Regions from separate parts of the Homo sapiens genome. Here region 2 is linked to region 1. A link means that fine-mapping ties the variant in region 1 to the expression of a gene that starts in the linked region. Tissue or cell type: whole blood. Region 1 holds a variant in brackets; the other region holds the start of a gene. All regions are shown on one strand. Distances are between the middles of the regions.

Region 1 (2,764 bases):
AGTCAATTAAATTGTTTTGAAAATTAGGTTTATGCACTTATCAGTTGTTTGAGAGTCTGGCAGTTTTGGCCTTAAGAGTTCCCTGTCAAAGACTATGGCGTGAAAGATCACTGCTTTCAGGCTTCTATGCTGTGATTAAATGTGGAGAGTGGTTTTGGGGACATGTGTCTTAAGGGATAAGCTAGTGAGGAATAGGTTGGGACTGGTAGGACGAGCGGCCTGTGGCACATTTCAGAGCCCTCAACCGTACCCCACACTGCATGGGCCATGACTCTCTCTTCACCCATGGATCATCTCTAGAGGGGATTCATGATGTCACCTGGAGTCTCTGCTCTCTCCAAGTGTACTGGAAAGGATTGGGTGTTGGGAAGGCATTGGAAAGCTGGTATTAGAAGAGTTAGCTGGGGAGAGATTTGACTGAAGAGAAGGAAGCGTGTTTGCAGTGTTAACGCAGTGGATCTGCCTCAAGAGGCCCAGAACTTAAGAAAGCCAGGAAGCTATTTTTCTACGACTCCCCATGTTAGTGAAGGCAATTTTTTAACGTGATATCCACTTTGAATTCTTTGATCTTTAAGAAATATGAGTAAGAGAAAAGGATAGATGGCAAGATAGATGAGGAACTTCAGAGGGGGCTAAGATTACTTTAAGGGAAAGCTAATGAGTTGTTGAATTGTTTTACATAGTGGGGTGCTATGAATAGGATGTTAAGGAAAGTTCTTCACAAATAAATGACAGAATAAAAAAAAAATAAACCTAACATAAGACAATTTTCTTTTTCAGCAAGGCACAGGGTTCTTTGGGAAGCTTCAAAAAATTCAAAAGTCATAGTGCCTTTTTTCATGGAATTCACTAAGTAGAGACTTTTTTGTAGGCATATCATTAAATGCTGGACTCTCAAGTTTTCGAAATGAGAAGTCTCCATCTGGGAGGTATAAAAGGAAACCCCCATCTGGTTGGTTTTAGCATCTTCAAGGTGAGGATACAATTCTTAAAATTGTCTACCTATTTCTGAGTCCTGGTTCAAATTCCTTTGTGATGTCTATGTCAGCTGGGACCCTGTAGGCCCCACTGAGTTGCACATCACCAAGTGTGCCCATCACTGTGGTTAGAGGCCGTGGGCTGTGTACTACAGACAATGCTGTAATTGCTTCTGTGACCAAGTGAGGGCGGAGTTTGCCCTTTATGTGATGTAGGCAATATTCTATTTTTAATAAGCCAGAAAAATCTGTTCAAATCCAGTAACTTCAAGATTTTCCAAAGACTGGAAGATGTGGAGGACGTGGGCATCAGCTGGAATCTGATTTCTCTCCCCTCCACACTTGCTCTTCCCCATTTCTCAACTGCTGTCTCCCAGTGTAATTACCATCTCAAGCATTTTCTGTTCGTCCCCTGTAGGTACACCACATCGTGCCAACAACCCATGGCCCAGCAGGAATATACAGTAGCCTTTGCCAGGGTCCACCAGGGCTTGATTACACTTCACGGCTGTAATTCAAGCCTGCTAATCCTCCTCTG[C/T]GTTCGGAAAAGAGGCCTGTTCTGTTAGATAAGCTGATTACTGTCTGGTGTGTGCTTCATGCCTAGCAAGAGTTGTTTATATGTGGAATTATTGCTGGCTGGGCTCTGTGCTTCGCTACACCGAGGAAGCTCGCTTAGGGGTCAGGGGTGTCAGGCTTCACCTCTGATCTGGGAGGGGTGAGAAGTGGAGTGTTGATTACAGCTGTTTTTCTCTCAACCTCTGTGCTGGTGGCTAAATATTTACTTTTCTCTGTTAACGGAAGGAGCCAGATAAGATTTTAAGAGTCTGAGACTTTTGCCCCTAGGACCCACTGTCAAAGATCATAGAGTGAAAGATCACTGCCCCAGACTTGCCACATTCTGATTAGGTTTGCAAGGCGATCTTAGTGGTCTTTTTGTCTTTAGGGCTACGTTAGGGAGGACTATGGCGGGACAAGTTGAGTGTGTGGTGAAATCAACAGCCACAGATTGAAGAGTGCCCGACCACAGGGAAAGGATGCCCGCAGAGACCATGTGAATGCTTTCTCACACTCAAAGATGTTTTCTTCAAAGCCACAGAAGCCTTGAAACCACCTTTGCCTCTGCCTACCAGCCCATCTCTGGTCTGGTGTGGAGCTTGTGGCTTGGGTGCAGTCTACGAAGCCCTTGCTCTTCATGGAGGAGGAAGTGCATTTTGTTATAACCGTCTGCCCAGTGATGTTGGCGTGATTTATGCTGGCTGCACTCTCAGGATTCCCATCCCTTTTGCGGGGTATTTTGTCCCCAGATGCAGAGCTGAGGTTCTGCTTAATACTGGCTTTTAAGTGTTTAAGCCCTACAAATGGCTATTCGGTTTAATGGTGTAAGGATGGGGTGAGTGCTGAAACAAGTACAGGTAAACACAAGCACCTGGCCCTTGTCACCTGCTGCATGGGCATACATTGGGGTCTGTTTGTATATTTGAATATGTGGCAGTCTACACTGGAGTAAGGAAATAAGGATGAATGTCAAAAGGCTTAATTGTGATGATATCACAATTGAGGCCATTTGTTGAGTAAACTTCCTCCACATCTCTGTATACTAATAATCGGTTTGTCAGCTTTTCTCTATGACACTATCATTTCCTTTAGGGCAGGCACTTTGTCTTTCATTTCTGTGACCGTTACCTGTCTGGCCCATAGTAACCAATCAAGGAATGGGTCTTTGATTTAGTGTATGAATAATTAATAGATTTCAGTGAAGAGGCAGCCTATCCTAGATTGAATGCGCG
Region 2 (2,764 bases), 220 kb before region 1:
GTAATGATTGGTGAGAAGAATAACATTTTATTTGAGGATCTCGAAGCACCTGGCAAGGCTGCTTTCCATTTTGCAGATTGGTTACACTGCGCTTGCAGATTGGTTACACTGCGCTTTGCATTTCCTTTGCTATACTGCCATCCAGGAAGAGGGCTGGCTACACAATAGAATATTTTATATTACAAAATATTCTGGACATTTCCTAAGTAATTGGCCTGCTATTTTATCTTATATTCATTGTGACTGTGTACACAGTCAGATTTTTCCCTCTCACTTTGCCCAATGAAAAGATTGGAAGCAAATTTGTGTCTGTCTGGAGCTATGATACTGGACCTTAGTTATGACTTTTGTTGGCTTTTTTCTTGATCCCATTGTATTTATTTTTTATTTTTTCCTACCCATTTTCAATTGGAGTTGTCTTGTTGGAATATGTACCCTTTTAAGCACCTCAAGTTTCCTTTCAAACTGGACAGGCAATAGACACATAACTAATTTTTAACACTATTCACACATTTCTGTTAGACTGAAGCAGATTGTGCAGTGGAAATACTAGGCCTTTGGAGGGAGTCACACTTGGGTTTAAATTCCAGCTTTGACACTTAATAACTGTGGACCTTGGACAAATTATTTAACCTTTCTGAGTTCCCTCTCTGTAAAATGGAAATAATAATCCATAACTCACAAAGATGTCTTGGGGATTAAATAAAATAACTCATGCAAATTACTTGGTGCATAGTAGGCATTCAATAAATGTCAGTTCACTTCTCTTCCCAGTTAATAATGCTTATTAGACTATATTAAAAACTAGAACTAGACTGTGATAATGCATTTCTTTATTAGGTATTTAAGCCAAATAACTAATTTCCCCCGGGGGAAGAGAGAGAAATGTTGAATTAGTTTCATTTGGTGAACTTATTTATTAATCTTTCTTTTTCTTGAGCATTTTTCAGTTTCATAGTCCATAATTTAGTTTTCATGCAGCAAAAATGACACAGTTTGGTATTCTTTTCACCTTTACTGTGCTAGAATTGTTTTTTTAAATGTATCTATTATTACATCTGCCACTTATTAGAGATCTTTATTAATTATATTAACAGCTCGATTGTGTTTCATAACTACGTCGTGCTGACAAACTTGTGCTCTCAGCAGTTTCCCTGAGGTCTAAGCATTTAAAAGAATCAAGTTTTAAATGACAATGCCACAGCAAAAGAAAAGCAGGGGTGGGCGGGAAGACGCACACCGTCTGTGTTCTTTCGTGTTAATTTTATATGTTTGCATTTAAGTGGAGCCACATTTTCCTCAAGGACGCAACCTAAGTAAGGCGAGCAGGGAAAGTGGAAACTAAGTGAGCTGGAACTACAGTACCATTGCACCTTTAAGGACTGGAGACTTGCTATTAGCTCGGCCTCCTTCCCGGCCCACCTCTGAACTCTGATTGACAGGGCGCCGGGCGAGGAGGAGCTGAAGGAGGCTGGAGAGGAGGCGCCGTGAGGAAAGTAGGGGAGGAGGGGGCCGGTCCTTTATCTGGTGGCCAATCAGGGAAGCGGGGAGGAGCTCCAGGCGCCCTCCTCCCTCCTCCTCTCCCCAGCCTCCCGGCTTCCCCGCCCCCTCCCCTTCCCTTTGCCCCCTCCCCTCTCCTCCTTCTCGTCCTCCTCCTCCTTCTTCTCCTCCTCCTCCTCCTCCTCTCAGGCTGTGGTTTTTCTGTATATGTTTCTGGAGTCCTGAGCCTGAGCTAAACAAAAGCAGGAGGCTGACGGGGCTGCTGGAGTTTGCAGAGACACGGAGGAGGAGAGAGCCTGTGCTTTGCCTGCCGCCGCGGCTGGGGGAGATCTGGCTTTTGCAACAGCCCACCCCCTTTGAGATCACTCTGGCCCGGAGTGGGGGTGGGGGGCAGCGGGGGGTGGGGGGGGAAAGTTTGCATTGCAATCCCCCTGCCTTCCTCTCCTTTCTCCCGATCAATGCATATTTGCAAAAGGATTAAGCCACAGATTTAAGCGCCGGGAGCCCATTTCTGCCTTGCAAAGGAGACCGGACTGAAAAACCTAAAGCCAGCTCTGATTTCTTTTCGCCAAGTGGGAAGGTGGTTTATTTTTCTTGCTTTTTGGAGTCAACACCCTTCCCCACCAGCCCTTATCCCCACCCTCACCCCGCAACCCCTTCACGCCCCCTCCCCCTCCCCCTCCTCATCCTCCCACCATCCTCTAAAGAGGCAAAGGGATTTTTTTTTTCTTTTGGTCTTCTTTTTTCCCCCTTCCCTGTTTATCCTGAAAAGGATTTGAAGACAAGCTTGAAGGATAAAAAGCCTTGGTGCTTCCCAGGAGCCGAGCCGAGGAGCAGAAGAGGAAGAGCCGGGGGCTGCCGTAGCCTTTGGAGATGGACGAGCAGCCCAGGCTGATGCATTCCCATGCTGGGGTCGGGATGGCCGGACACCCCGGCCTGTCCCAGCACTTGCAGGATGGGGCCGGAGGGACCGAGGGGGAGGGCGGGAGGAAGCAGGACATTGGAGACATTTTACAGCAAATTATGACCATCACAGACCAGAGTTTGGATGAGGCGCAGGCCAGGTGAGATGGAGGCTTTTCTTTTCCTTTCTTGGGGTTTTTTGTTTTTCTTCCTCTTGCAGGGGGAAACAATGGGAACCGAATCACCACAGCGCTTTTTTTGAAAAATGTTATTTCTTTTCTCATTTTGACAAGCAACTACATGGCGGAGGAGTAAAATTTGAAGGAGCGTTGTTATCGAAAGTGTAATCGCCCATGCCGAG

What was found. PIP is the estimated chance that this variant, and not a neighbour inherited with it, causes the effect.
Region 2: PBX1 starts here. The variant in region 1 is fine-mapped to the expression of PBX1 in whole blood (TOPMed, PIP above 0.99).

Annotation. Positions count from the first base shown.
Region 1 is chr1:164,773,427-164,776,190 of GRCh38, forward strand. The region is part of intron 2 of PBX1 (PBX homeobox 1); the gene reads left to right. PBX1-AS1 (PBX1 antisense RNA 1) reads right to left here and starts at 1,215. Exons shown (of 4, transcript NR_038072.1): 1 at 1,003-1,215. The variant C/T (reference allele first, on the strand shown) is at 1,516.
Region 2 is chr1:164,557,450-164,560,213 of GRCh38, forward strand. It overlaps PBX1 (PBX homeobox 1), which reads left to right and starts at 1,735. Exons shown (of 9, transcript NM_002585.4): 1 at 1,735-2,564. The coding sequence starts at 2,374. RefSeq lists an enhancer at 1,317-1,816.